Linked DNA regions of Homo sapiens. The protein of the gene in region 1 interacts with the protein of each later gene in a pairwise test. Each region holds a gene or a part of one and is shown on either strand. Other genes may lie near its edges. The genes, in order: HSD3B1, DLST, GSN and NEK7.

Region 1 (7,623 bases):
TCCTCTGAAATCCACAGGAAGTGACGCTGCCAGTAAGGTTGTCACCTGGAATTAGCCCACAAAATGAACACCATGCTACATGGAGCTTGGATAAATACTCTACACTTGTTTGTGCTTTATCATCTGTATGCAACTTACAGGATATTTATTTCTTTTTACAGCTATCTCATGAGGTAGGTATTCTGAGTCCCACTTTATCAGTGAGGAAACTGAGTCTCAGAGAGGTTAAGGGACAGATCTAAGGTCACGTTTCTAGTGAAGGCTTAAACACGCCCACCCTGCCTCCAAGCTTGTACCCTGTACACCAGGTGCAGGACTGGCTGTTTAATATCAACTTTTCTGTTGTTTAATATCATTCTTTTCCAAAGAATAAGCCAGTTTAACTGAAATTGGCAACAAAGACCAAAGACCAGTGAGAGCAAAATTCAGAGTGAAAAATTCGAAGCTGGAGAAATTCCTTCCTGGGGTACAAGCAGGACCACTTGCTCTCCTGATGCCTCTGCCATGTTTTGTCTACTCCCAACCTCTTCCCGTTGTCAGGCAACTCCAAGAAGGTCCTGGAGTGGGGGAGTCAGGGAAGAGGCTGCTGGTGGTGATGTGGGTAACAGCCTGAGAGTGGGATGTTCTCTGGTTCTAGTTCCACCTCTGCCCTTCCTGCTGCCTTCCTCTGCTTCTTCTTTGCTGCCACTTCAGACAGACTGGCTCAAAGGAGTGTCAAAGTGGAAGAAGTCCAAAGCTGAGAGAAAAGGACTCTTCCCCAGTGAGTTCCCAGGGATCTAGAGGGACTAGGAAAAGGTACTTTGTTGATGAAGTCATGGCTCCCTTCTTCTCCAAGGCACTGTAGACTTGGCAAGTGTTTTATGTAGACTAAATGGAGTTGCTTTTATGGTGTAAGTTGGGCTAGAGGAAGGCCTAAAGGAGCTGTAAGACAAACTACTGCTTAAGAGCACAGATGCTGCACTAGTCTGTCTGGGTTCAAATCTAGCTTTGCCATATGCTAACTGTGGGACCTTCAAAAAGTTAACTAACCTCTCTGTTTCTATCTCCTCATCTTTAAAAAAGGAGGATAATATTACCGATCTCATAGGGTTGTTATGAGGAGCAAATGAGTTGGCAAACCTTTGGCCAAGTGCCTGGCACAAAAAGAACACTGAATGCTTTCTCTGTTTTTATCTTCATACAGATCCCTGCCTGTCTATTATATGATCTGCATTTTTACCATAGGGGAACAATACCTCTAGGCTGAGCATTGCTTTTTTCTGGCTTCAGATGTTAAATTGCAAATATTGCTGAGACACAGGCAAGGATTATAAGCATTTCATATTTGTTTATCAAAGACAACATTAAAACAGAGGGTGGAAGAAATCGAACATTTCAAGAGGTCAGAGAAGAGCAAAAGTAGAGTGTTGGGTGTGGTCCCTGAGTGCTGTCAAGTGGGGGATTCTCTGTGGGCAGGGCAGGACCCTCTGGGCAGCCAGAGCCCACATGTAGACACACAGTCCCCCAAATCCCCTGGGTTGGGGAGGAGGACAGGGAATTGTTTTGGGGCACACCAAGGAGCAAAGGGAGAGACTGAAGATCCACTTTGCCAAGCATCAGCTCTGGGGCCAGGTGAAATAGCCTATGGATAAAGCTCTGGTCTGAGCTCTGCTACGCATCAATCAGATGGCCTTAGCATGTTGCTTTGTGATTCCGGACCTTGATGCGTTCATTGTCCTGTTGGATGTGATGCCTTTTCTACCTGCCTCTTGGGGCCATTTGTACAAGGAGTTGCCACAGAAAATTCTGCAGTCAATTTCTTTTTGATGATGAGCAACAGAGGTAAATGTTTTGTTTTTTTTTTTTTAAAAAAAAGCCATATATGCAAAATCTAAATGAGGCATGTCTGGCCTTATACTGCCTCTTACTCTGTCTCTGCTCTGTGCTGTGCACTGTGCACACACATTCTCTCACTGATGCTCTCTCTCTCACTATATATTTTTCATTATTTCTCTGTCTTTCTCATTGTCTCTCTCTCTGAGTCTCTCTCCCCGACTCTCTCTCCCCGACTCTCTCTCCCCCTTATTGTTTTCCTCTCTCTCTGTCACACACACCCACTTATACACTCATCTTTACCTTAACTTCCTTTTATTTTGCCCTCACAAAGGATACTAAGGAAGCTGCAAAACAAAACACAGCCTGGCACGTTCTAGAGAGACAATGACCCATTGGTGAGGTCTCCAGGGTAATAGTGTCCTTTATGAATGTTGTACAGCAATTGCCAAGACAAAAGCTTCAGAACATAAAAGAGTTGCAGACAAGACAAAGAACTGATGTGGGATTTTCTAGATGAGAAGAAAAGAGGCCTGGAGGCTGAGGTGGCTGCTTCTCAAGTTCTGGGTCAGGGCCAGAATCTAGTCTCTGGAAATCCCACCCAGTATCTTTCATACTATGCCATTTTATACTATTTAATATTTATTTCTTGATGACTTTGGATGTGAGATTGGCTTAGATTTGGCTACAAATTTCAATAACTTGCTAGACAAGGTCCATCTCCCCCCACATACATGCAGTGTTTAAGATGGAACCACACACCCATGACCCAAGTTTACTTACTAGAAAATTCCTCTCTCAATTCTGGTCCGAAGGCCTTGTCCAAGACCCTGATCTCCTTCAGCTCCTTCTCCTTCACCAAGAGGCGGATGATCCTCTGTCCCAGAAACCCTCCTGCTCCTGTCACAAGGCAGCTCCAGCCCGTCATGGCCATCCAAAGTAGCAGGAATCACTCACCAGGAAACAGAAGATGCTGGGGAGCAGATCTGATTCTAGGGTGACCCTGGAGAGGGCTAAAAAGAGATGTCAAATGGTTATATACTCACACAGATGCCTCATTTTCCTCCACCCCATTTTTTTTGCAAACATTCTGTGTCCCCACCACTGCAGGAGTAGCTGAAAGAAAATGAAAAATCTCTAACCATTAGTTAGATTGTTAAAAGCTGGACAGAAGAGTGGACGTACTTCTCACCTCATTTCCTGTGGCAAGTCTGAAGCTTTATGCACTGTGGCTTCTGGCCCAACCCTTATCACTTTGATCTCTGGCCATGTACTCATTGCTCTCTCCTCCTATGGGATCCTTATCTCAGAAAAATAGTGACCTTTGGGTTACATCTCTAATTCTTCCCAGGAACAGGAAGAGAAGTCCCATCCTAATGCTGCAGTGTGGCAAAGAGTCTTGGGTTTAGCCTTAACAGGACACTAGTCAGTTGATACCAGCTGTCTGGGATCCACAATCTGTGAACTTAAACTAGACCAGGAGAAATCTGCAAGTGCAATTTGAATTGTGCCCTTGTTCAGTAAATCCATCTGGAGGGAAATCCATGTAAGCCCATTATCTCCTCTCTCAGACTATCATTTGAAATGTTGCTGCTGTCTTACAAAATTTAGAAATTTGCAATGGTGACAGCTCCAATCACTTAGTTTTATGTGAGGTGACTTTCTTTCCTACCCAATATATCTGAAACCTCAATGGTCATTTGCCCCTGGAGAGCCCTGGGTTCCTAGATGAACAACATCATTGAAGGAAAGCTATCTGGTGATAACCACTTAATGATATGGCCTGTATCACAAGAGTGGGGATTTGTGGTTGTATGCCCCAATGACTCTTATCATAGGTGTTCGAACTTATCCATATTTTTGGCTGCAAAACGATTCTCAGCAAATTCTTGAACTGGACATACTGTGAATGCTTCTGAAGCCTATGCCCCAGAACTGCCCAAATATCACCGCCATAAGCTTCCCAAGACACTTTACTCAAAAAAATTGAAATATAATTTACATGCATTAAAATGCCCAGGTCTTCAGTGTTCAGTTCAGTGGAACTTGACAGTTATATATGCCCATGTAAGTAGCACCCCAAAAAAGATATAGACCATTTCCGTCACTCCAGAAAGTTGTTTTCTGCCTGTTCCCTGTTAATTCCCTGACCTTCCCCCAATCTACCTCATAGGCAACTACTTCCTGATTTTTATTCCCACAGTTCTCATTTTATTTCTATATTTCTCTAATTTTTTCTTCTAAGATCTCTGTGGTTCTGGATATATATTTAAATATAAAATTATTTTGAAATGAAGTTTTGTGCAGGGAGTACAGAAAAATTGACCGTTGATTGTCTCTGTTGTTTATTTTTCTATTTCATGATTTTCATTATTTTTATTATTGGCTTACATTTATTAATTTTGTTTTTTTTTTTCACTCGTTTTTCACATTTTTTTTTTTTTTTTTTGAGATGGAGTCTTGCTCTGTCACCCAGGCTGAAGTGCAGGGGCACCATCTCAGCTCACTGCAACCTCTGCCTCCCGGGTTCAAGCAATTCTCCCACCTCAGCCTCCGAAGTAGCTGGGATTACAGGTGCCCGCCACTGCACCGGGCTAATTTTTGTATTTTCAGTAGAGGTGGGGTTTCATCATGTTGACCAGCTGGTATCAAACTCCTGACTTTGTGATCTGCACGCCTCAGCCTCCCAAAGTGCTGGGATTACAGGCGTGAGCCACTGCACCCAGCCCCGTTTTTCAGGATCCTGATAATAAAAGCATAGAAAATTGTTTTTCTTTACTCCTTTCCTATTTCCACTATAGGCATTAAAAGTTGTAAATTTCTCTTTAAGCACTGTGTGAGCTGTACCCAACATTTTGATGTATTGGGTTATCATCATTCAGTTAATAATATTTAAAGTTTTGTCTTGTGGTTTCTTCTCTGACCCAAGTGTTATTCAGAAGTGTGTTGCTTGTTTTCTAAAAGTGAGGATTTTCTAGATATCTCATTGTTATGGATTTCTAATTAAATACTACTGTGGCCAGAGCATATGCACTGTATGATTTTGATTCTTGAATATTTAGTGAGATTTGTTTTATGGTCCAGCATATGGTCTACATTGGTGAACATGCCATAAGCACTTGAAAAGAATGCTTTCTGCAGTTGTTGAAAGTAATACTCTACAAATGATTTAGTTTGACACCCCACTCTGGGTCTTGCCCTCCTCCATGTTGTAGACATTCATCTTCTACTTTGGACCTCACTACCAATGCTTCAAAACCACTTGCCTAGGAAAGGTTGGCCTTGTGCTACAAGATGTAGCAGCTTGTTCTCTGAAACTATCAGAACTATTTACAGGCCCTGGGTCTTGCTGAGACTTGTGGAGTACTATCTGAAACTACCCAGGTGCATCGCATGCCTTTGCCTGCTGTAGCAGTGCTGGAGAGCACCTTAAAGATCCCCCATCGCCTTCAGTGTGGGGCTGGACTTTCTTTCAGCTGTTGAACGTTCTGGAGGCTCGTAGATTTCAGCTCATGTGTCTTGGAGTCTCTGAGTGGAAGCAATAAATATAAGCCCTAAAGAAAGGGAGAAATAAAACAAAGGTCCAGAGTGATTGGGAACCATACTACCAACTTTCTTTTATTTTTAAATAGGTTTACTGAGGTATAATTGACATCACATTTGCTTGTTTTAAGTGTACAGTTCAATTATTTTTAGTAAAATTTTATACTTGTGTGGACCATCACTGTAATCCTGTTTTCCAACATTTCTATCATTCCTAAGAAATCCCTCGTGCTCATCAGTCACCATTCCTTACTCTTACTCACAGCTCAAGGCAACCTTTAATTGACTCACTGACTTTACAGATTTGCCTTTTCTAGACATTATATAAATGGAATCATAGAATATTTGGTCTTTGTATTTCTATTCTTTCACTTAGCTTAATATACTTTTTTTTTTTTTTGAGACAGAGTCTTGCTCTGTTGCCCAGGCTGGAGTGCAGTGGTGCGATGTTGGCTCACTTCAACCTCCACTTCCGGGTTCAAGTGATTCTCCTGCCTCAGCCTCCAGGCACCTGCCACCATGCCTGGGTAATTTTTGTATTTTTAGTAGAGGCGGGATTTCATCATGTTGGCCAGGCTGATCTAAACTTTTGACCCCAAATGATCCACCCACCTTGGCCTCCCAAAGTGCTGGGATTACAGGTGTGAGTCACCACACCTGGCCAGCTTAATGTTCTTTTGTGGTTCATCTATGTTGTAGCACGTATCAATATTTTACTCCTTTTAGGTGCCAAACCCTATTAAATTGTATGGATGGCTCCCATTTGTTTATTCATTCATCAATTGATCGATATTTGATGTGTTTCCACTTTATGGACTATTATGGATAAAGCTGCTATGAATATTCACATTCATGTGTTGTGTGGACATAGGTTTCTGTTTCTTTGGGGTAGACAGCTAGGAGTGAAAGTGCTAGATCATAAGGTAAATGTATATTTAACATTTTAAGGAACTGGCAATCTGTTTTCCAATGTGGCTGCATGTCCCATCAACACTGCAAGAGTAGTTCAATTTTTCACATCATTGTTTTTCACTTCTTTCAATTGTTTATTTATTTATTTATTTTATTATTATTATACTTTAAGTTTTAGGGTACATGTACACAATGTGCAGGTACATGTGACATGTTGATGTGCTACACCCATTAATTCGGCATTTAGCATTAGGTATATCTCCAAATGCTATCCCTCCCCCCTCCCCCCACCCCACAACTGTCCCCGGAGTGTGATGTTCCCCTTCCTGTGTCCATGTGTTCTCATTGTTCAATTCCCACCTATGAGTGAGAACATGCGGTGTTTGGTTTTTTGTCCTTGCAATAGTTTGCTGAGAATGATGGTTTCCAGCTTCATCCACGTCCCTACAAAGGACATGAACTCATCATTTTTTATGGCTGCATAGTATTCCATGGCGTATATGTGCCACATTTTCTTAATCCAGTCTATCATTGTTGGACATTTGGGTTGGTTCCAAGTCTTTGCTATTGTGAATAGTGCCACAATAAACATACGTGTGCATGTGTCTTTATAGCAGCATGATTTATAATCCTTTGGGTATATACCCAGTAATGGGATGGCTGGGTCAAATGGTATTTCCAGTTCTAGATCCCTGAGAAATCACCACACTGACTTCCACAATGGTTGAACTAGTTTACAGTCCCACCAACATTGTAAAAGTGTTCCTATTTCTCCACATCCTCTCCAGCACTTGTTGTTTCCTGACTTTTTAATGATTGCCATTCTAACTGGTGTGAGATGGTGTCTCATTGTGCTTTTGATTTGCATTTCTCTGATGGCCAGTGATGATGAGCATTTTTTCATGTGTTTTTTGGCTGCATAAATGTCTTCTTTTGAGAAGTGTCTGTTCATATCCTTTGCCCACTTTTTTATGGGGTTGTTTGTTTTTTTCTTGTAAATTTGTCTGGGTTCATTGTAGATTCTGGATATTAGCCCTTTGTCAGATGAGGAGGTTGTGAAAATTTTCTCCCATTTTGTAGGTTGCCTGTTCACTCTGATGGTAGTTTCTCCTGCTGTGCAGAAGCTCTTTAGTTTCAGTAGATCCCATTTGTCAATTCTGGCTTTTGTTGCCATTGCTTTTGGTGTTTTAGACATGAAGTCCTTGCCCATGCCTATGTCCTGAATGGTATTGCCTAAGTTTTCTTCTAGGGTTTTTATGGTTTTAGGTCTAACATGTAAGTCTTTAACCCATCTTGAATTAATTTTCATATAAGGTGTAAGGAAGGAATCCAGTTTCAGCTTTCTACACATGGCTA
Region 2 (7,026 bases), on another chromosome or scaffold:
GAAATGCAGTTAACTATGATAAGGACAGCTGGTGGGCAGAAAGGGTCTCTCACCTTGTTGAGAGTGACCAGGGTGGAAGACTTCAGAAAGGCATGGGAAGTCAATAAACTGAAAGATGGGGACATGATTTTCTCAGCTCTAGGACAAACTGGAGACCCCGAGCCTAAAGTAGCCAAGTCTTTGCTACTAGGATTCAGGTGATAAGATTTCCAACCCAATCTTTTCAAACCCAGACCAAACATCCTCCTTGCTTCTCAAATTGGGTTATGTATAGTCACAGGATAAGCCATCCCATGTCTTTCTCAAGCTTCAGTTGTATTTGAAGACTTGGCGAGTAGAGACATTTTATTATGAAAACATACAGGAATAATGAAAAGTTCTGGCTTTTTAAGGTAGATGAGATTATATAATCACTTTGGGCTGTGCCATCAAATTTTTTCTCTTTCCTCCCCAGCCAAACACATACCCACTCGATCTCACATACCCATTTGCTCTCTGCCACTAAGGCTACTTTGGAAAAGTTTGAGAAGCAGGACTCTATGATAAAGATTATATCCGTTGCCGTTGATCCTGCTCTGTCTCAGGGTTGGGGGTGAGCAGACCTTTTCCATTCCCAGCATGTATCCTTTGTGAGATAAGAGTTGTTGGTTAAGAGTTATTTTGTTTCTTGCAGGGGTCTCCTTATGCCAGGGACCAGGTTACCCTAACAGCAGGAAGGTTGTGTAAGTATCACTGGGGAGTACAGATATGTGGCCACGGGTTATTTATTTAAAGACATAAAGTTCTAAATTTGACCATCTGATTTCTTCACTGGCCTCCAGACCTAGAAATTGAGGTGATTATGTTGAGTCCCTAGACTAACCTCAATGTTCACTTTTCCCATGTGATGTTCCTTGAGCATCAGCTCCGTGTCAGGTTTTGGACTGGGAGTGTGCCCACTCTCCACAGGTGTTTGGATTATAATGAAAGTTAAGTTGGAATCCTCTTTTTATGGGATATAGAAGGGTGCTCCTAGATATTCTGTTTGGATGTAAGTGCAGCTGAAAGGCTCGAGGTTACATTTATTGTGGAGATTGAGAGCATCCTCTCAGTAGCATAGTTACTCATTTTTAAAAACAGTAAAAGCATAAAACTGGTTGAGTCCTGGGACTGACTGACTAGTTTGGAGGGAATGCTGTTATTGCATAATGCAGAGTTTGGAGAAAGGCTACCCATGTGTGTTTCAGATTAACTTCTGCGTATGAATGTTGCTTAAATGCTGCTTTGCATTCCAAGTGTTTTTGTGGTGGTGCTAAGAGAATGCTCTCTAGTAACCTGTTCAGCAGCTGTCAGGCTGCTTACTCTACAGGGAGAATCCTCAAAGTGAAGAGGTCAGCGGATGAGCTTCTTACTTACTCTACATCACAATGAGGGTTTTTGTTGTTGTTGTTTTGAGACAGGATCTTGCTCTGCCACTTTGGCTGGAGTGCGGTAGCCTGATCTTGGCTCACTGCATCCTCAGCCTCCTGGGCTCAAGAGATCCTTTCACCTCAGCCTCCTGAGTAGCTGAGACTACAGGCACATGCCACCATGCCCGGTTGTTTTTTGTATTTTTTGTAGAGATGGGGTTGTTTTGCCATGATACCTGGGCTGGTGTCAAACTCCTGGGCTCAAGCAATCCATCCACTTGCCTTAGCCTCCCAAAGTGGAGGATACAGGCGTGAGCTATGGTGCCTGGCTGATTTTTTAAAATTTGAGTAAATGTTGCACTCAGTACTAGAAATATGAATCCCGGTGTTATTTTGGAGGGCAGTTTGATAGTCATAAGTCTTTGAAGTGTGTGTACCTTTTCTTTTTTTCTTTTTTTCAAGATGGAGTCTTGCTCTGTCACCCAGGCTGGAGTGCAGTGGCGCGATCTCGGCTCACTGCAGCCTCTGCCTCTCGGGTTCCAGCAATTCTCCTGCCTCAGCCTCCTGGGTAGCTGGGATTACAGGCGCACGCTACCACACCTGGCTGATTTTTGTATTAGTAGAGACGGGGTTTCATCTTGTTGGCCAGGCTGGTCTCTGAAACTCCTGACATCAGGTGATCCGCCCGACTCAGCCTCCCAAAGTGCTGGGATTACAAGCATGAGCCACTGCCCGGCCTGTGTGTTCCTTTTCATCTAGCAATTCCATCTCTAGGAATCTATACTGAAGAACTCCTGGTATATTTATCTCAGATTTAATATCTGATAATATAAATATTATCAGATTTATCTTAAAATGGCAAAGAGCAAGGGATTGGCTAAACTATAGCATGTTCACATGTTCACACTATGAAAAGTGGGAAAAAGCAGGTTACAAAATAATTTCATTTTCTACTGTGTGGTATGATCCCATTGTAAGTATTCTTTTTGCTATTTCTAATATTCTGTAGTGAACATCTAGTTATTTAGAGATTCAAAATGTATTACTCATCTGCAATCAAATGAAAATTGGGGCAATCATGACTCTCTACAATAAATACACTAAATATTTGAAAGTAAATAATGAAGAAAAAGTAAACTTTGTGTGGGATCACCCCAATCATGTCACCCTAATCCAGTATCTTTGTGTGTGTTGTGCCTTTTTTGTGAATAAGGTACCCACTTTATTTAATAAATCTTTTATTGTAAAACAATTTTTGGTTTTATGTTTTTACTAATAGTATTATATTTACATGATTAAAAATTCAAAAAGTAAAAAGGGTGTCCATGAGAAGACTTTTTTATCCTTGTCCTCTAGCCCCCCGAATGCCTCTTGGGTAGTGGTGGCCACCACTCCGGGTTCCTGGATGACTTGCAGAGCAGCCTCTGCACTTGCATGTTACCTGTTAGTTCTTGCCTATAGGCATGTACTTTACAAGGTTACAAACTATATGTAGAACAATTTGTATTCTTGTAGTTTTTAAATATCTTCATTTTTTCTTGGTTATACATAGACCTTATAGTTATTTTGACATTATAAAAGTAAAAATACCTAAAGACAACTTAAATCTCTTTTACTTTTCTATTATAAAAATGCTTGTTGTGGAATATTCAGACAATCCTGAAGTGTAAAAAGTGAAAGTCCCCATCCAAATCATTCTCCCAAATTGTGTAAGTGTGCAACACATAACCAGAGATACCATATATGTCTACATCTCTCACCCCTCAGAGGTAACCACTGTTAATGGCTTTGTGCATACAGGGTGAGCTGATTCTCCAGTTTATATTATTTACTGTAAAGGCCATATCAGTAAACGCCTTGGTCTTTGAGGTTCGTTTTGAATGAATCCAGAATGTGTTGATGTGCTGTTTTCTAGCAAGAGAACCGAGTAGGAGATACCATATGGGGTTTGTGTGTGGTTTTTTTGTTTTTGGGTTTTTTTTTTTTTTTTTTGGCATAACACCTTGTTTTACTTCCGAGTTAACCTTGTTAATCTTGCTGCCTTATCTGATCTAAATCTGTTATCTTGAGGGCAGAAATTCCATTATACCTTGCACAATGGCTTGTACCCTGGGCAGGCCGTAAATCTATCTCGGATTTAGTTAAGGAAGAGACCTGGCTGGACATGGTGACTCACTCCTGTAATCCCAGCACTTTGGGTAGGATCTTTGAGACCCGTCTGGGCAATGAAATCCATAGTCTACAAAAAGTAATTTAAAAAAATTATCTGGGTGGCATGTGCCTGTAGTCCCAGCTACCCGGGAGGCAGAGGTGGGAGGATCCCTTAAATCCAGGAGTTTGAGGTTACAGTGAACTATTATCATGCTACTGCACTCTAGCCTGGGTGACAGAGCAAGACTCTTATCTCTTAAAAAACAAAAAACCAAATCAAGAAGCTAAGTCATTTCGGTCTGCAAAGGACCAAGGTGCTTATTTTTTTATTGAAAGAGCCAAATGTAAGTCTGTTTTGTGAGAGTTGGCATTGCATTGCAGCACAGGGGCCTGAGCATACTTGGGGAGCTCACCATTTAAGGTACCTGGGTCGTTAGGCTCTACTCCAGACCTGCTGAGTCAGAATCCCTGGGGGAGAGGCCTAGACAAGTGAACTTTGAAAAAGTTCCTCCCCAAGTGACACTGATGGACACCCCTGGTCAAGAGTCACTGTTTAAGGGGAAGGTGACCCATGGGGCCTTAACTAGACTAAAATGTGAGTGGTTCGCCTGTTAAAAGGAGTTAACGTGTGTTTCTTTTGTAGCATTAACAACAGTGTCTTCAGTGTTCGCTTTTTCAGAACTACAGCTGTATGCAGTAAGTACCTGCTTTCTTGGGAATGGAATTTTATGGGAAGAGCAACAATTGATTGAGTTTAATTAAAGAAAAATATTAAAAAGGAAAAATGAACTACTTATGATTTTCTTTTTTGCATTTTTCCTAGAGGATGACTTGGTTACAGTCAAAACCCCAGCGTTTGCAGAATCTGTCACAGAGGGAGATGTCAGGTGGGAGAAAGGTAAGATTTAGTTTCCTATTTTTTTTTTTTTTTTTTTTGAGACAGAGTCTTGCTCTGTTCCCAGCCTGGAGTGCAGTGGTATGATCTCGGCTCACTGCAGCCTCTGCCTCCCAGGTTCAAGTGATTCTCCTGCCTCAGCCTCCCGAATAGCTGGGATTACAGGTGCCCACCACCATGCCTGGCTAAGTTTTTTGTATTTTTAGTAGAGACAGGGTTTCACCATGTTGGTCAGGCTGGTCTCAAACTCCTGACCTCAGGTGATCTGCCCACCTCAGCCTGCCACAAAGTGTTGGGATTACAGGCCTGAGCCACTGCGTGAGCCACTGCGCCTGGCTCCTCTCACTTCTTAAGTTTAAGTGCTATCTAAAATTCTCCCCTCCCCTCAGGATAGTTGTAGAATTTATAGCTCTGCCGTTTTCTTTACATATGTACTTTCTGCTGGCCCTGTAGGAAAGGGTTCTTATAACATACCTGCCAAAATGGGTTTTGTGGCTACTGGAGGCTCCCCGCTAACAGGTAGCCTTGTAGCCTTTGATTGTCTTTTCAGCTGTTGGAGACACAGTTGCAGAAGATGAAGTGGTTTGTGAGATTGAAACTGACAAGGTAGGCTTATCTTATATTCGTACCAGCTTTTCATGGGCTTCCCTTAGTTAACCTAATGAAAGAAACAGGGACTTAACCATTGTTTAGAGATAATTTTTAACTAGCTCTAACTTCAGTTGTAAAATTATTGGATTTGTTCAATTTAAAAAAAAAACAACTTTTTACATTTAACTTTTTTTTTTTTTTTTTTTTTTTGAGACAGACTTGCTCTGTTGCCCAGGCTGGAGTGCAATGGCCTGATCTCAGCTCACTGCAACCTCCACCTCCTGGGTTCAAGCGATTCTCCTGCCTCAGCCTCCCTAGTATCTGGGCTTACAGGCGCATGCCACAACGCCGGGCTAATTTTTGTATTTTTTGTAGAGACAGGTGTTGCCAGGCTGGTCTCAAACTCTTGACCTCAGGTGATCTGCCCGCCTTGGCCTCCCAAAGTGTTGGGATTAGAGGCATGAGCCACCGCACCTGACCTGCATTTAACTTTAAATTGTTTGCTGTGTGTGTACTATGTACTTCATTTAGTAGCTTTAGTCTTGTAGTGTGTGGTGAGGGGGTGGGGAGGGTAAATAAGCTGTTTCCACTTTTTCCTGTATCACTTGGAAACATATTAACTGAATATTGCCTGAATGTTTCTGAGAAAGGACAGAAAGTGAATCTTCACAGTAGCGATGACTTGTTATCACCCTTGCTCTGAAATTATGGCCTTAGATGTTTGTGTGCAAGGCCTTATATATTGTGTTGCAACTCTTGTTACTCACTGGAGATACGCTGTTGTTGTTGTTGTTTTGAGACGTTTCGCTCTATCACCCAGGCTGGAGTGCAGTGGCACGATATCGGCTCCACCTGCCAGGTTCAAGCGATTCTCGTGCCTCAGCCTCCCAAGTAGCTGGGATTACATTTTTGTAGTTTTTAGTAGAGATGGGGTTTCACCATGTTGGCCAGGCTGGTCTTGAACTCCTGACCTCAAGTGATCCGCCTGCCTTGGCATCCCAATATGCTGGGACTACAGGCATGAGCCACTGTGCCTGGCTTCATTGGAGATTCTATACAGCTAATTTTCTAATGCTGGATAAACATTTGGACTTCCTCCATCTGTCTTCCTCTTCCAGACATCTGTGCAGGTTCCATCACCAGCAAATGGCGTGATTGAAGCTCTTTTGGTACCTGATGGGGGAAAAGTCGAAGGAGGCACTCCACTTTTCACACTCAGGAAAACTGGTGGTAAAGAAGTTCTCCTGGTGGTCAAGGTCTCCAGTGTTCCCTCTTGGGATTGGGACTGAGCATAATGTGCTAATTCCCCGATATGTCAAAGACTCTTGTCATTCCAGCTGCCCTTAGTTGAGGGAATAAGGGGTAAATTTATATATAGTGTGAACTTCAAATGTCAAATTCTAAAAGAAAAGTGTATTTTTTAAAAAATAAACCTTATACTCTGTTCTTTCCATGGGTGTTTCTTAGCAGGAGCTGAGAAACTGGACCTTTTCTTATAGATATACAGATTGAGCATACCTAATCTGAAAATTCAAAATCTGAAATGCTCCAAAACTGAAAATCCAAAATCTGAAATGCTTCAAAACTTTTTGAGCACTGACAGAATGCTCAAAGGAAATGCTCATTGTCTTTTATGGGGAATTCAGTGTTGTTTCTTTTCACATCTGTTCTCTCATATCTCTAGGAAGGGTTGGTATTTCTTTTGGGAAGAAATGAGAAACGAATTTGTACTGGACCTGATAGGATTAGAGATTAATAACTTTATCTGACTCTTAGTTAAATTTTATAACCACTAAAAAGTCTATTTCTTTTTCCTAAGCGAGAATCGTACCCGTAGACCAACGAGTCACAGAAGTCTATTTCTTTTTCACTGTTACACTAATAAGGCAGATAGACCGCATGATTGAGGTTAGTCAGGCAAGACCAGAAGCTCAGAGTAGAAAACATGTATGGTAGAAGGCTGGGAAATAAGGTAGTCCTCCTGTTGCAGAAGTTTGTCTT
Region 3 (7,026 bases), on another chromosome or scaffold:
GGCTTAAGCCAGGAGTTTGAGACCAGCCTGGTCAACATGGTGAAACCCTGTCTCTACTGAAAATACGTGCTGGGATGCTCCTGTAATCCTAGCTACTTGGGAGGCTGAGGTATGAGAATTGCTTAAACCCTGGAGACGGAGGTTACAGTAAGCTGAAATCACGCCACTGCACTCCAGCCTGGATGACAGAACAATACTGTCTCAAAACAAAAAAAGAAAAGACAAAAAAAGCTATCTTTTAATATACCAAGCACTGGAACATTAATTACTTTATTGATTCCTTGCAACCATTCCTCTGAGGTAGATACTAGTATCTTCTTTTACAGATGAGGAAACTGAGTCCGAGGCTGAATAACATGCCCCGGGTTGTGTGGCTATTGGGTGATGGTGCAAGGATTCCAGAGGTCTGACGACAGAGCCATAGCTATTAATGACAGCACTAAACATTCTCTTGAAAATTCTTTCTAGTCCTGGTATTAGGAGAACTGGTAAGGGAGTTTGTTATGCTTTTATGAGGGGTGGGTGTCGGTGTGCAGAGCTTGGAGAGCTCAGCCCTGCAGCAGAGAGGCCTGGAGGGGCCTCCCGGGGCTGTTTGTAAACTCATGCTTTCCTGTGCCATCCGCAGGACCCTCAGTGCAGGTCAATCTCCCCTCCATTTCAGGGAATCCAGGCTCCAAAAGGACACAGGACTTGCCCAGCAAGGTCATGTGGTGAGGTGAGAGCCCAGCCAGGACTGGTCCCCCCTTTTCATCAATCAAGCTTATGCTCTGGAAATCTATCTGGCGAAGCCAGGAAAACTGGACACTCTCCTGCTCCTTGGTTATTCCCTGAGAAAATGCCAGCAGAAGCAGAGAAAAGCACGTCCCAGGGGTTATGCATTTTGGGGAGGAAGGGAAAAAAAGAGACCAGTGTTTAGGCAGCCGGGGGATGTTAAGTAAAAATATCTCCTCGCTTTCAACGGAGTGAGCGTGTGTCATATTTCAGCCTGATGTGGTTTGTGAAGTTGGAGACCACAGGCAGGCTCAGTTCCTGCTGCTGGCCAGCTTCCCCTTCCCTCTGTCCCTCCCCTGCCATATGCCTGCTCTCGTCTGCCCTGCCTGGGACCACATCAGCAATTTAAGAATAGGGCAGAGAAAAGCAGTGGGTGTTGTGGGCAAGGGTAGGCAGCTGAAGGCCTGGGCTTGGGTCCTGGCTTTGCCAGTGACAAAGTACTGGGTGACTTGGGCTAATGCATGCCTTTCTCTGGGCCCCAGTGTCCATTCTGCACTGTAGGGTGGACAGCATAATGTCAGCCTTCCCAGCTCTGATGGCCTCTGAGTTGGAGGGCTTTGTGCTCCCCACATGTACTTGGGTCCGGCATGTCTGAGACACAAAGTGAGCCCGCAGTGGTGCAACTGGTGATTCAGCTACTGTTCTTGAATTTAATCTTTTCGGACTGAATTGATTGCCCCATTTTGCAGATAAGGGAGTTGAGGCCTAGGATTTGTTGATGTATCCCATTCCCTGCTCTACAAGCAACAATAATAAGGGCCACCATATGTAACACACTTACTATGTATGTTCACCTTTTGCTTTCACTATCTGCTTTAATCTTTTAACAGATCTACGAGGGGAGAGATAGTGACTCCATTTTACAGATGAGGAAACTGAGGCTCAGTTTAGAAAAATGAAAGGACTTACGTTCTCTTCTTTGAGTCTCACAATAGTCCTGGGGTTGTCATTATGTGACCCATTTTACCAGTGAGGAAACTCAGGCCTGGAGACGTGAGCTCCTTTGCCCAGGGGTCCCCAGGGCCCACACACAGCCTGTCAGGTTCCTTCCCAGGCCCTCCTGCTCCTCCCTCCTCCCTTGCTTGCTCTGCCTCATGGGGAGCCTCTTCACCTCTTGCATTCAGTGCCTGGGTTAAGGGATGAGAACAGTTTTCTTCCTGGGCTATAAAGTATCCCTGAAATTGACTCTTCCCAAGAGTGATCCAGAAAGGCTTTAAGCCATGGAGCCTCGCAGGGAACTCCAGTGAAGGGGTCGCACCAGTGGGAGTGGATTCGTTTATTCTGCTGAGCTGGCTAAGCAAACAGTCCTGTTATTTTCCAACCTCAATAAGAATATCATCAGAGCCAAGCTTATTTGCCAAGCAAAGTATATATATTCTACATATGTGAGCCTTCAGGGTGGGGCTTGGCCCTTAATTTCCCTGCTACAGAGACTGTGGCTGAGCTGGGTTTTGGTGGGTACTAAGTAAATACTAGTTAACTTGTTGGGTGTGTGTTGATGATGTGGGTGGCATATGTACTTTTTTCTCCCCACCTCCAAGGACCTTTTCCCCCCACCCTTATTATTTCTATTACACTTGTGATAGAAAATTTAGGAAATAAAAAAGTATATATATAAAAAAGAAGTGTTCATAACTAACCAGAGAAAATCACTGCCAACACCTGGGTGCCCTTCCTTCCTGATATTTTCAGTGCATTTTTTTTTACCCCCACACAATTATCCTATATTTATAATTGTCTGTTCTGACTTTCTGTTTTTTCTCAACATTATATCGTAAGTATTTTTCTCATGTTATTAAGGATTCTTTTTAAATTTAATTTTTAAAAGTTTTAAAAGCATACTATACCTAAGTAGATAAATGTTTATTCTAATTTAAATCTTTTATTCCAATAGTCCTAGGGATTAAAAAATGAAATAATGCTTTTTATTTATTAACAAAAAGGCTGAGAGAAACAGGATTTGCCCAAGATCACCCCCAAAGAACCAAGACTGGGGCTCCCCAGGGCTGTAGTTTGCATCCATAAATACAGAGAGAATAATGTTTATAATCTTGGGTATAAAAACTTCTGGTGAAAAGGTTGATCAAATGCTAGCTGTATTTCTCCCCCTTCCATGGCTTTCTACTGAGTCTCTCTCTCCTACAGGACCCTACTTTGCTCCATAATTAAGCAGCAAAGTATTTCAAGAGCTGTTCAGATTCTAGAAACTCATAGCAGATGAAATCGACAGATAAGTCAGATATCGAATATAGACATTAAAAGATCTGGGCACTAGGCTGTACCCTGTTATTGTCAGTGGCTCTTTAGTCCTTAAACAAGGGTCTTGCCTCCTACTTTTTTTTTGTTATGGTAGAAATAAATGCCCACCCGAGTTTTCATCACTCACTATTATTCTATCTTTGGTGTGCCTGTACCATGTTCCCTTAACAATCCTCAATTATGAAACATTTAGGCAGTTTATAAACAATACTGCAATGAACAACCTAGTGCATACTTTTTTTGTGTGTTCTTCTTTTATTATTTCCTAGAAGTGAGCCCTAGAAATGGAGTTCCTGAGTCAAAATGACACATTTTATAGCTTTTTCTTGTTAAAAAAAAAATTCAGTGACACTTGTGAAAACACGGTAAGGAAGTCTTTATTCAGGAACATTGCCTTGGGCATAGGGACCACTGCAACAGGGTCCTACAGTGAGGGAGAGAGTTTGGGCTCAACTCCTAATACAGCATGGGCGAGTGGGAATTGATAGCTGCAGAGCAGGGTAGGGGTCAGCGGATGGAAAATTACTAAGAGGAAGCTCAGGAATAAGGGATATTCTTGCTAAACCGACCTAACAAAATTATTGATGAAGACAAACCAGGGTGATTCAAACATCAGTGGGGGCATGGTGGAGGATGAGGAGCCTGATCAGATATCAAGGATGAGGGGTTCTGGCTAAACAGACTTAGCAGGATTCTTTTGCTAAAACTGGATTTTACAAGGAAGTGCACAGGTAGGCCTAGGAGAAGGTTCAGAAGCCTGGCTAAAGTTTGGCCAAGCAAATAATCTGTGTCATGCTAAATTTTGCCAAATTTCTGCTCATAAAGGTTACAGTAGTCCTTATTCCTACCAGCCATCCGTGAGAATGGCAGCATTCTTCAGGAGCATCTGAAGCTGGTTATAAAAAGCTCAGCTGTCCTTTTATAGAATAGAGTACAGCGACCATTTTCCTGAAACGTTACATTTCATTCATTCATTTGGCAAATACACTTGCACAATTCAGCAGCAATAAAGCATAACAAGTTAAGATCCCAGGCCGAAGAAGTGGAGAGAACTTGGTTCTCCTTCTGGTTTATGTTTTGCACTTGCCCTAAGACCTTGAGGACATCACCTCACTGAGTTTCATTTTTCTCAGCTATACAGTTAGGGCTTCAATACCCACTTCACAGAATTCTACAAAGTACCTAACACAATGCTTGGCCAGTGCAATCATGTGGATGCTGGGAATTTGTATTATCTCATCTGACTCCAAAGAGCCCTGGAAAGGAAGCAGGTAGGGACAGATCCTTCCCATTTCATGGACTCAGAGAAGAAACGGCCATGTTTCTTGGTGTCCTGAGCTTCACTTCAGGAACTGGTAGTCCAAAGGAACTGTATCGTTCAGAACGGAGGTAAAACAGGCTTTTGTGGGCTAGCCTGTATCCATCCCCCTCCCACCTCCCCTCCCACCACAGTACCTGTTTCTCTTGGAAGGCAAGTTCCCAGTTCCAGTGGCAGCCAGAATTCTTTCTATGCTCTTTTAGAAGGTGGGAGATGCCTGCCTAGACTGTTCAGTGGTCTTAAAAAAGAGACCATAAAATTCATGGTTGCATAAAATATAGTTTTCATAGATTTAAATTGCATTTTAAATGCACTAAGGCTTCATCTTTGAGCTTTTCAGAAATGTGGGATTTCAGACTCCATCTTTAGGGTTGCCTTATTTAGCAAATAAAAAACAGTGTGCCAGTTAAGCATGAGTATGGCCCTTGGAATGTTTGGGGCATAATTATACCAAGACATCTTATTGTCTTTCTGACATTTAGATTTAACTGGGCATCTCATGTTTTATCTGGCAACCCTACCCACCTTGGGTCTACTGAATCCAAATCTGGATTTTCACAAGATCCCCATGGAATTCGTGTGCGAATTCAAGTGTGAGAAGCATTGCATTGGGAGCCTTGCCATCAAAGCCCTGAATGAATCCTTTTTGTAACAAATCTGTTGGTAAAATATAATGCACTATTTATAAAGAGCCTGATTATTCCCAAATCAACCATTTGCACACATCTGTGTGTTCATGTGTTAGGTTTTCTTAATACAGGCTACCCTTGCACTGTTGTCAGTTGAAGGGAAGAATTCCTTGCTTTGGTAAGAAGCCCTAGCCCCTCTCAAGGACCTATTTTCCTCATCTGTAAAATGGGCTACATCCTTAGCATCCGTGCCAGCCTGTGGTGACCAGCTGAGGTGGCCCCAAGGGGATGCATGGCTAGAGCCCACGCCAGGTCCCTCCTCAGCCTCCTCACAAAGGACCGAATGACTTGGCTCTGTGATCCCATCCCCCAGAGACTTTGGTGTGACTGTGGTGACCCTTGGCATAGCGCACCCCCCCGACTGCCTCCTCATCTCAAAACTTTCCAAACCATGACTTTTATAGCAGGGCTTTAGGAATCGCCTGGCTCTACCCTCTCACTTCATGGCTACAGATACTTGTGCCCTGAGAGAGCAAGTGAATTTCCCAAAGCCAACAGCAAGCCCTCTGATTGCTGCTCTACCAAACCAAAATGATTTCAGTTCTCATGAAACCTAAGGCCTGACTAAGGAAGATTAAGAAACCTGGTGGTGGTCGGGTCCTGTAGTGGGGTGGGAGGAGGGGGGAGGGATAGTATTAGGAGATATACCTAATGTAAATGACGAGTTAATGAGTGCAGCACACCAACATGGCACATGTATACATATGTAACAAACCTGCAGGTTGTGCACATGTACCCTAGAACTTAAAGTATAATAAAAAAAAAAGAAAGAAAGAAACCTGGTGGTGGTCATACGCCTAGTTTGTCTTGGTTGTGTGGTCTTGGGTAAGTCATTTCTCTCTCTAACCTATTCCCTGCCCCCACCCCTCCATAATATGGGGAATACACATTTTCCTGTTCCCCTAGGTCTCCTTTCTACCTGGTTAAGGTTTTATTTTAAGATCCAGTGGTAGATCTTGGTCTGTCAATTGGTCCTAGAGTGGAATGCTTTATGAAATCACTGGTACATGTGTTAGGTCAGAGACTTAATACCATGACATCATGAAAGATGTCTTTAGACCCTTTCTCTCCTCATTGCTAACAAAGATTTTATGAACTGTGTTTCAGCTGGACAAAAAAGATGTTCTAGAGCATTCTAAGATCGCCTGGGGCTTTTGTTAAAATGCAGATTCTGGTTCCACAAGTCTGGGGTGGGGCCTGAGGCTCTGCATTTCTAGTGATGCTGATGTAGCTGGTCCAGGGATCACACTTTCAGTTGCAAGATTTGAAAACAATCTGTTATTAGTGTAGAATCAATACTTATGAGATAAGGGACTTAAGAGGCAAGTCCCTTGTTCAGGGCTAAAGACCCAGTGACAGTAATAGGGTCTAGCCTGGAGCCCAGATCTTTTAATGTCTTGTCTTTGACATCTGACTTATCTGTCTATTTTATCTGCAGCTATGAGTTTCTAGAATCTGAACAGCCCTTAAAATACTTTGCTGCTTAATTATGTAGCAAAGTAGGTTCTTCTTTAGGAAAGAGAGTGACTCAGTAGAAAGCCATTGGAAGGGGGAGAAATACAGCTAGCATTTGATCAACCCTTTCACCAGAAGTTTTTATACTTGAGATTATAAACATTCTTTCTGTATTTATGGATGCAAACTACAGTCCTGGGGAGGCCCCAGTCTGTTTTTGTATGCCTCTGAGCTAAGAATGGTTTTATAGTTTTAAAGTGTTGTTAAAAAACAACAATAACAAACAAACAAGGAAGAATATGCAACAGAGAGGGTGTGTAGCCTATGGAGCCTAAAATATTTACGGTCTGGCCCTTTTACAGAAAAAGTTTGCTGACCCATGATCTAGAGTACCCAAAGATTTGCATGTTCTTTTTTTTTTTTTTCTAGTCAGCAAGAGGCCCAGCCTTATAGCTTTGAAATATAGTGAGGTCAAGACGTAGGGGAGGCAGCCTGCGTTGGTGGGAACTGCCCAGACATCTTAGCTGTGTGACC
Region 4 (7,026 bases), about 79 Mb from region 1:
TTTCAATCCAGAACCCTAATTATTTGTACACACTAAGACTCACATAATTCAAAAGAAAAGATTTGACATTCAGGCTTATTTTTCTAAAACTTCTCATTTTTTGTTTTAATGCTTAATTGTTATGTATGTTTTAGAATATAAGATAGGAAATTAAAAGAAAAATCCCAAGCTTTTAAACTCTAGGTTCTTAGATAGAATGACTATATCTAGAAATAAATTGTGTAGGGTTCCTGAGGATTCCTATCAACTGAGGCTGACTGGCAGGTATGGCTAGTATTCTCATGAAATCCTCCCTTAAAATCTTGTTTGGGCAGTAACCTTAAAAATTTGGCAGTAGCTACACAAATTTGGTAAGCTCATAAATACATACCTGATAAGTTGATTTGCTTAAATTTTTTTATTTTTCAAATAGTTACACACTCTGTTATCATTGTAGCTATAAAATTAACAAAATAAACTGTCTTTTAATTAAAAGTTCACTGTTGAAAAACTCTGTACTTCACTTTTTATTAGTTCCTGTATTTTGCCATACTAACAAATTAAATGATATTCTAGATTTTTAAAAGATCTAAAAAGCCTACTTTACTTAAAAAATTTAAGACATTATAGCACTACCAAATTTGGGATTTTTGGCTACCATGAATTCTGAATAATTATTTTACAAATTGAGTTCCTGCTTAAGGAGAGAAAATATTTATTAGCACATCTGCATTTCAAAGCTCTTGTTTTGAGAACTCTTCTACATAACTAAATAGATTAAAGTAACATTGTTATACAGTCCGCATATTTTTATATTCATTTCTTTAGTAAGAATTATTTTCCACATTTACCTAGAAACTACAGCTTTCTATTTCATCAGGGAATGACAACACATTTTACCAATACGAGGAATCACATTTTTTTGGAAAGTACACCATATAATGTGTTTTGCTTTACAGCTCTTTTCGAAACTGGTAACTATATAGAGTGAAGTAAAAAGTGGAATCTATTTTCCTTTCCCAACTCTAAGACCTTCTATCTGGGCCAGACTTTGATATTTGCCCCTTGGCTGAGAATCCGCATATCCAACTTCACACTTAGCTGCAGTGAAGTAGCCCTGCAGGCAGGCCGACTTCAACGAACCACTAGTGGTATCATCATTAAAATCCTGCTGAAGGTCACCATGGTAACCGCCTGCTGAGGCTTCACTGCTGCACTCGGCATCTCCTAATCAGCTACCATGTGAAATGCAAATTCAGACAGTCTGAAAATTAGTCAAGAAGAATAGGGGATGAGGATGCAGATATGTGAAATATTCATGCGCTTCATGGAAAAAAGAAGACAGCATGAATGACACAACAAAGAAAGGCCCCTGACATTCTTGCTATCATTTTGCATTATTGTTCACACCCCACTGTATTTCCAGGCCTATAGTTCTGAAGTTGGTTTTGTGAAATGCCATATTTATAGTCTATACCCAAAATAGTAATTAAAAATGGCTAACATAATAGTATTAACATCAAATAAAGATAATACTTTTAAATTATCATCACTGCTCTGTAACAGTTTATTCTAATTACCTGAATACAAATGCTATGCAGAAAAAAACAGGCATCACTGATTATCAGTATCAAAACTACCAGAAGAAAAAGTGCCTATTATATTCTAGGAACACAAATGCTTTACATGTGGTGAAAATTCTTTAGAGATATTTATTATTCAAGTTACACGAACTCAAATTTCCTTACATAATACTAAGACCCTATGCTATTCGTTTCACAATAGAAAGACTGACATGATTACCTAATAAGTGAACATTATAATTGTTTTATATTTTTCCTTTTCTCCTTTCCATTTTCCTGAGGCAAAAAATCTGTTGCTCATGAGAAGGTGCGATGTCCTAACTCAACACACTATTTTCTCTGGGTAGGTCCCTGATGAGTATTCCATAAAGAGCTAATATGAAACATTTTAGTTGACCTGAGATACTGCTATTCTGCATACATCCTCCTTAAATATTCGTAAAATGATGATACGTTAGGCTAAAATGGGAGATGTTTTGTTCAATGAAAGACTGGACATAGGGTAGAGCCAAAACAACTCACTTCAATGGGTTACCAAAGCAAGCAAGCAAGCATTCAGACTCAGATCTTAATAAGGTAGCCTTCTAAGATTTTCAGCCACAACTAACACACTTTTTAAACATGTCTACAATGATAACCTCGAAACATTTCCCCAGTAGAATCTGAGTATAGCAGTGAGGTGATGATAGGACAGGTATTGTCAAAGGAGAGAAGGTAAAGCTTAAATAATAAGGCTCAGAGATATGTAGTTAAGAGATGCGTGTTTCGAGTTTTGGAAAACATGGACGAAAGGGAAGTTCTGCCAAAATAGAAAATTACAACTGTGTGCTGGTCTGGTCTGGGACTGTGAGAATAAGGAGTTAGCCCTGTTAGGAAGGGCCATCAGACATGATGATTAACTAGAGCCTAAGTATGAGCATTAATTCTGCCCTTTGCACGATTCAGTACACTGTAGAGTCAGCTACTATTCTTATCACACCTAGAAAGTGGCCAATTTTACACCACATGCTGTGTTGTGTTGCACTACACATTATCAATTGCAGAGTCAACTCTTTAGACAGCAAGTCTCCAAGAGAATGAAAACAGAATTAAAAAGTGCTAGTTCTGCTACCTATACCATTCATTTTCATTTTTGGATAAAGTAAAATTTCTTGGTAAAATAAAAATGTTAGCAAAATGGACAACAGAAGAACATGTGGGCTGAAAATGACTTACTTCTTCTGAATAGTGATCTGAAGGAAGAGGTGGGTAGTCACACTGTTCTATCTTCTTACACAGTGAGTATAAATTCATTTTGTCACCATAGAAAGGACTTTGTAATGCAGCCATCTGTAAAATGCCCCCAATGAAACTGATATAGTTAGATGGTAACTTAAAAGGTGATTTCATCAAGTATATTATACGGGGGTAGAAAATAATCACAAATATTTTAAATAGAGATACCTGGGCATTTTGATTTTTATGAATATCCCCTTCTGAGGAAATTTATTAAGAGTTAAAAATCTTACTGCAACTTTTGGTTATTTTTTTTCCAACATTTAAAATTCCCTAAAATAGAGAATTAGCATATTTCTTTATATACAAATGCAACATAAAACAATAAAGAAAAATAACACATAATTTAAAAACTCTTTGTACCTATAATGACACAAAAACAACTACTATATCTCACAACAAAACAGTCATCACAAGGTGTAGCTCAACCATACAGAACAAACATGAAACTGAAGTTAAAACTGAATTATAATCTAGCATAGGGAAGAGAATGCAGAGCATTTTCTCTTGCATAATAGTTTCTGAAGATAAAGGTTATTCTGAGAAAAAGCAGTCTTTTCAATTTAAATGCAATAACTGATCCCCAAATAGTTTACAATGAATTAGAACTCTTTTGATAATGTCTCAAAAACATTAAATTAAATATGTTCAAAAGCTCTATGAGTCATAGCTGTAATTCAAGGCTTCCAAATGAGATTTTTATGCAGAAAAACACGACCCAAAGGATGAACAACTTTAAAAAAGACATTATCGAATTTAAATTTATTTTAAGACAAGGTTCTAACTTGACATTTAAAGTGCAAGCAAGTACTGTGGTAAGCAGTGTTACAAACTAAAAATTCAATTTAAAATGTTCGCATCCTGTTCAAAACCTTCTAAATCTTTGAACCACAGCAGCAAGAATACAACACGGAGTGCCAGGCTGCCCCAAAGTCAGTCACCCTTTTCTACATGTGCTAATAAGTTTGATTTTGGAAGGACAATGTGTACATTCCCCAGACAGGCAGAGTGTGTGTGAAACACGCTAGTCCATGCTGTGCTACTCAGTGAGCGTCAGTGGGGACAGGACAAGCTGAAAATGGCTCTCATCTGTCTTCTGTGCTCCAGACAGAGCTTTAACTCCTTCAGAGCCTTGATGAGAAGGGGATGGGATTGGAAATCAAAACTGGAAAGTAGCTCAACACATTTTTATCTTGCCTATGTTTTACATAAAACGTGCACACAACTATATAGAAGTACCTTAGGAAGAGTTGTTTCACATGACGAGAAAAAAGTTAAAAACAATCTGAATGCCCCTAATCATATAAAACACTCTGAGAGGAAATTTCTAAAAGAACCACAATAATAATAATAATAATAATAATAATAATAATAGTGGTTTTTGTTTTAAATGCAAGGACACTTTAAGATCTTACCTTAAAAATACACTGTATATATAAACTATAGTCTCTCCGTGTTTGCAAAACCTTAAGTAAATGTACATATATTCATTATCATATTCTAGGCGTTCATTATAGTCCTTTTTCTCAGTACTGCAGAGTGTTAAAAAAAAAAAAAATCTGAATGTCCCCTAAGGAGTTAAACAGGAATAGTATATTTTCATGCATCTCCTGCTTTGACAGATGAAAAATGTCAACTGTCCTGTTTTTATTTTCAAGCTTTTGCACTATTCATCTGGTTCATTAGTGCATCTCGATGCTGCCCCTGACAGCTGCTCGCCCTCTCCTCCCAGCAGCTGAATTTTTCAGGCTAATTTGATCCTCCACACTGAGACGATCGCTAGAATGATTGACTTACTCCCTGACCTCCAGGGTCTGACTTTCCTGATTAGTATTCTGGGGGTGTCGGAGGGACGAAAGCCCACTGTCTGTCTTCGGGGCTGGTGGCAGCTCTCTTTTTTTTTGAACTGTAAGCCACCAACCTACAACCCTGTAAGGATGCAATTGCTGCGCTGAACAATAAAGGAAATGTGTAAAACCTACTTTTCCATGTAAAGGTCCGTGTAGCAAAAGCACAGCATCTTGATTTTAATTAGTAAAGTCTACTTTGTTGCATATCAATTAAAACTGTACTGCTAGTTTTTTTTTTTTTTTGAGGTTTCAGGAATATTTGAAAGTCTAATTTTCTGAGTTTAAAATACATTTTCAAAAAAGGCTTCCTACGTCTTCATTGTTAATAGTAATTTTTTAGTGGGTACAATACAAAATACGTGATGTTATGACCAATTTTTAAAAGCCAAACTGTTAGCTATTTCTATTAACAGTACATTGAAACACAACTGAAAGGAAATAGAACATAAATTTAAATTAAAGCTTTAGAAAAATTCTAGTTCTTCTAAAAGATTTGCATGGAGAAATCAAGAAAATGCGTTGAGATGAAAACTAACATTAGCATGATAATACTTTAACTCAAAATCATCCACAATACATATAACTCATGGATGTAGAAATGTCCAAAGATGTTATTTTTATTTTTGTGGCATTTTAAGTCCATACAAAAATGGGACACCGTCTCTCAAAGGCAAATTCAAAATGTGATAAATTATTTCAGTTTTGACATGAGTATGCTAAATCTAAAAGAATTATGCAAACTTCCTCTCAAAAACCACTTACTACCTCAACAGAACTTTTTCTTTTTTATTGCTAAATTTAATCTAGTTATTGGAAACCAATTTGCTGTTTACTTTTAGGGATTTGAAGAGAATATGTTGCTTTGATAATATTAGACTATGGCCTAAAGGAATCTAAGGTTAACTAAACAAATATAAAATATTTTAAATGTACAGAGTGACTAACTTTTAAACATTATAGTAACAATATAAACAATCCAGTTCTTTTTAGGATTGTACCAAATTATTAACAAAATATAACACAGTGAGCGTAATTTCTTGTAATCTCGTGCACATATAAAAACATGTTTTGTTACATTACTGACTCATAATTTTTCATAACAAAAATTATCCAAAGTATGAGTTTATTTAAGAATATTTAAAAATCCTTTCATTTTAAGTAGTTGTTAGTCACTTTAGTAGGAAGGACAAAACAAATAATTTCAGGTTCCTTAAATTAAGGAAATTTGAATCTGCAATGAATAAAATAATAAAAGATCATGACATACATTTTTAAAGAGTCAAAAAACACCTCCTAATGCTCTACTTCCAAGTAATGGTGGTACAATTAAAATAGATGATTTCATCATATATTTCATTTAATTCTGGAGGACAAGAGACAGGAAATATATATAGTAGGAAATGCATTGGTTTCTATTTATCCTCTTTAGACTTCTCTCATATACACAGAGATATGAAAATGATTCCTACACAGGGATATGAAAATGCTTCCATGTATTACATTTCCTCACTTTATTAAAACCTACTTAGATATAGACTAATTTTTAATTAACAGCTTTGACTCGAAGCCTATATTCCTAGGAAAATTATCATTCAATTAAAAAAACAAAATTACAGAAGTCACTAGCTTGAGATACTTTTATACCAACACAGATGTAAAATGTGTTACTAACATGCTTTCTTTTATCCACCCAAATTATTACAGTGCAACATTTCTAGAGGACCTACCTACATGATTCCATCTTCCTTTGATAAATGATCACCAGTAGAACAAAAGAGAGAGTATTTCACTGAGCTTTACCAATACAAATTGTTACTCATGGAAACTAAATTGATAACCTAGAAGAACTATCTGTTTGCATACTATCCTTAATGCTAAATTACACCTGTGTAAAAGTGAAATAAAATATTGATAAAAATATTTACTATACTTTCATATATTAAATCCAATCCATTATGCCACTCCTGTAATGCATGGATCAAGATTTACAGATGTTCAAACGTATATTTTTACAAATGCAAGATATAGAGAAAGGCGTTATATTAACATAAAAGTTAATGCTTTAAAAATAAACTTCTCATCAAAAGAACACAATTTAAAAATATATTAGATGTGTAGGAATGTATAGTTATTAAATTCCATTATACAAAGTTATTAACCCAACGAAAATTCTTCACAATTAAAAAGGTGATTCTTAAACATCCAGAAAAAAGTAAGTATATACTATAAGGATAGAGGAAATATACTAAGTAAAACTGCATCAATATTTGGAATTTATCAACATTACCTACCTCATATAGTAGACAGCCAAGAGACCAGATGTCAGATTTGAAGTTGTA

The links.
Region 2: the proteins of HSD3B1 (region 1) and DLST interact in binary tests that used the Homo sapiens proteins (3 or more experiments, as listed by UniProt).
Region 3: the proteins of HSD3B1 (region 1) and GSN interact in binary tests that used the Homo sapiens proteins (3 or more experiments, as listed by UniProt).
Region 4: the proteins of HSD3B1 (region 1) and NEK7 interact in binary tests that used the Homo sapiens proteins (3 or more experiments, as listed by UniProt).

The regions. Positions count from the first base shown.
Region 1 is NC_000001.11:119,502,594-119,510,216, reverse strand, and holds the start of HSD3B1 (3 beta-hydroxysteroid dehydrogenase/Delta 5-->4-isomerase type 1), read right to left. Parts: upstream 3,008-7,623; 5' UTR 2,955-3,007; intron 2,826-2,954; 5' UTR 2,741-2,825; coding exon 2,596-2,740; intron 1-2,595. UniProt on the Homo sapiens protein: A bifunctional enzyme responsible for the oxidation and isomerization of 3beta-hydroxy-Delta(5)-steroid precursors to 3-oxo-Delta(4)-steroids, an essential step in steroid hormone biosynthesis.
Region 2 is NC_000014.9:74,884,913-74,891,938, forward strand, and holds part of DLST (dihydrolipoyllysine-residue succinyltransferase component of 2-oxoglutarate dehydrogenase complex, mitochondrial isoform 1 precursor), read left to right. Parts: intron 1-673; coding exon 674-722; intron 723-4,182; coding exon 4,183-4,235; intron 4,236-4,362; coding exon 4,363-4,437; intron 4,438-4,984; coding exon 4,985-5,040; intron 5,041-6,143; coding exon 6,144-6,255; coding exon of another isoform or gene 6,256-6,314; exon of another isoform or gene 6,315-7,026. UniProt on the Homo sapiens protein: Dihydrolipoamide succinyltransferase (E2) component of the 2-oxoglutarate dehydrogenase complex. The 2-oxoglutarate dehydrogenase complex catalyzes the overall conversion of 2-oxoglutarate to succinyl-CoA and CO(2).
Region 3 is NC_000009.12:121,271,149-121,278,174, forward strand, and holds part of GSN (gelsolin), read left to right. Parts: intron 1-661; exon of another isoform or gene 662-715; intron 716-7,026. UniProt on the Homo sapiens protein: Calcium-regulated, actin-modulating protein that binds to the plus (or barbed) ends of actin monomers or filaments, preventing monomer exchange (end-blocking or capping).
Region 4 is NC_000001.11:198,292,992-198,300,017, reverse strand, and holds part of NEK7 (serine/threonine-protein kinase Nek7), read right to left. Parts: coding exon 6,979-7,026; intron 2,892-6,978; coding exon 2,778-2,891; intron 1-2,777. UniProt on the Homo sapiens protein: Protein kinase which plays an important role in mitotic cell cycle progression. Required for microtubule nucleation activity of the centrosome, robust mitotic spindle formation and cytokinesis.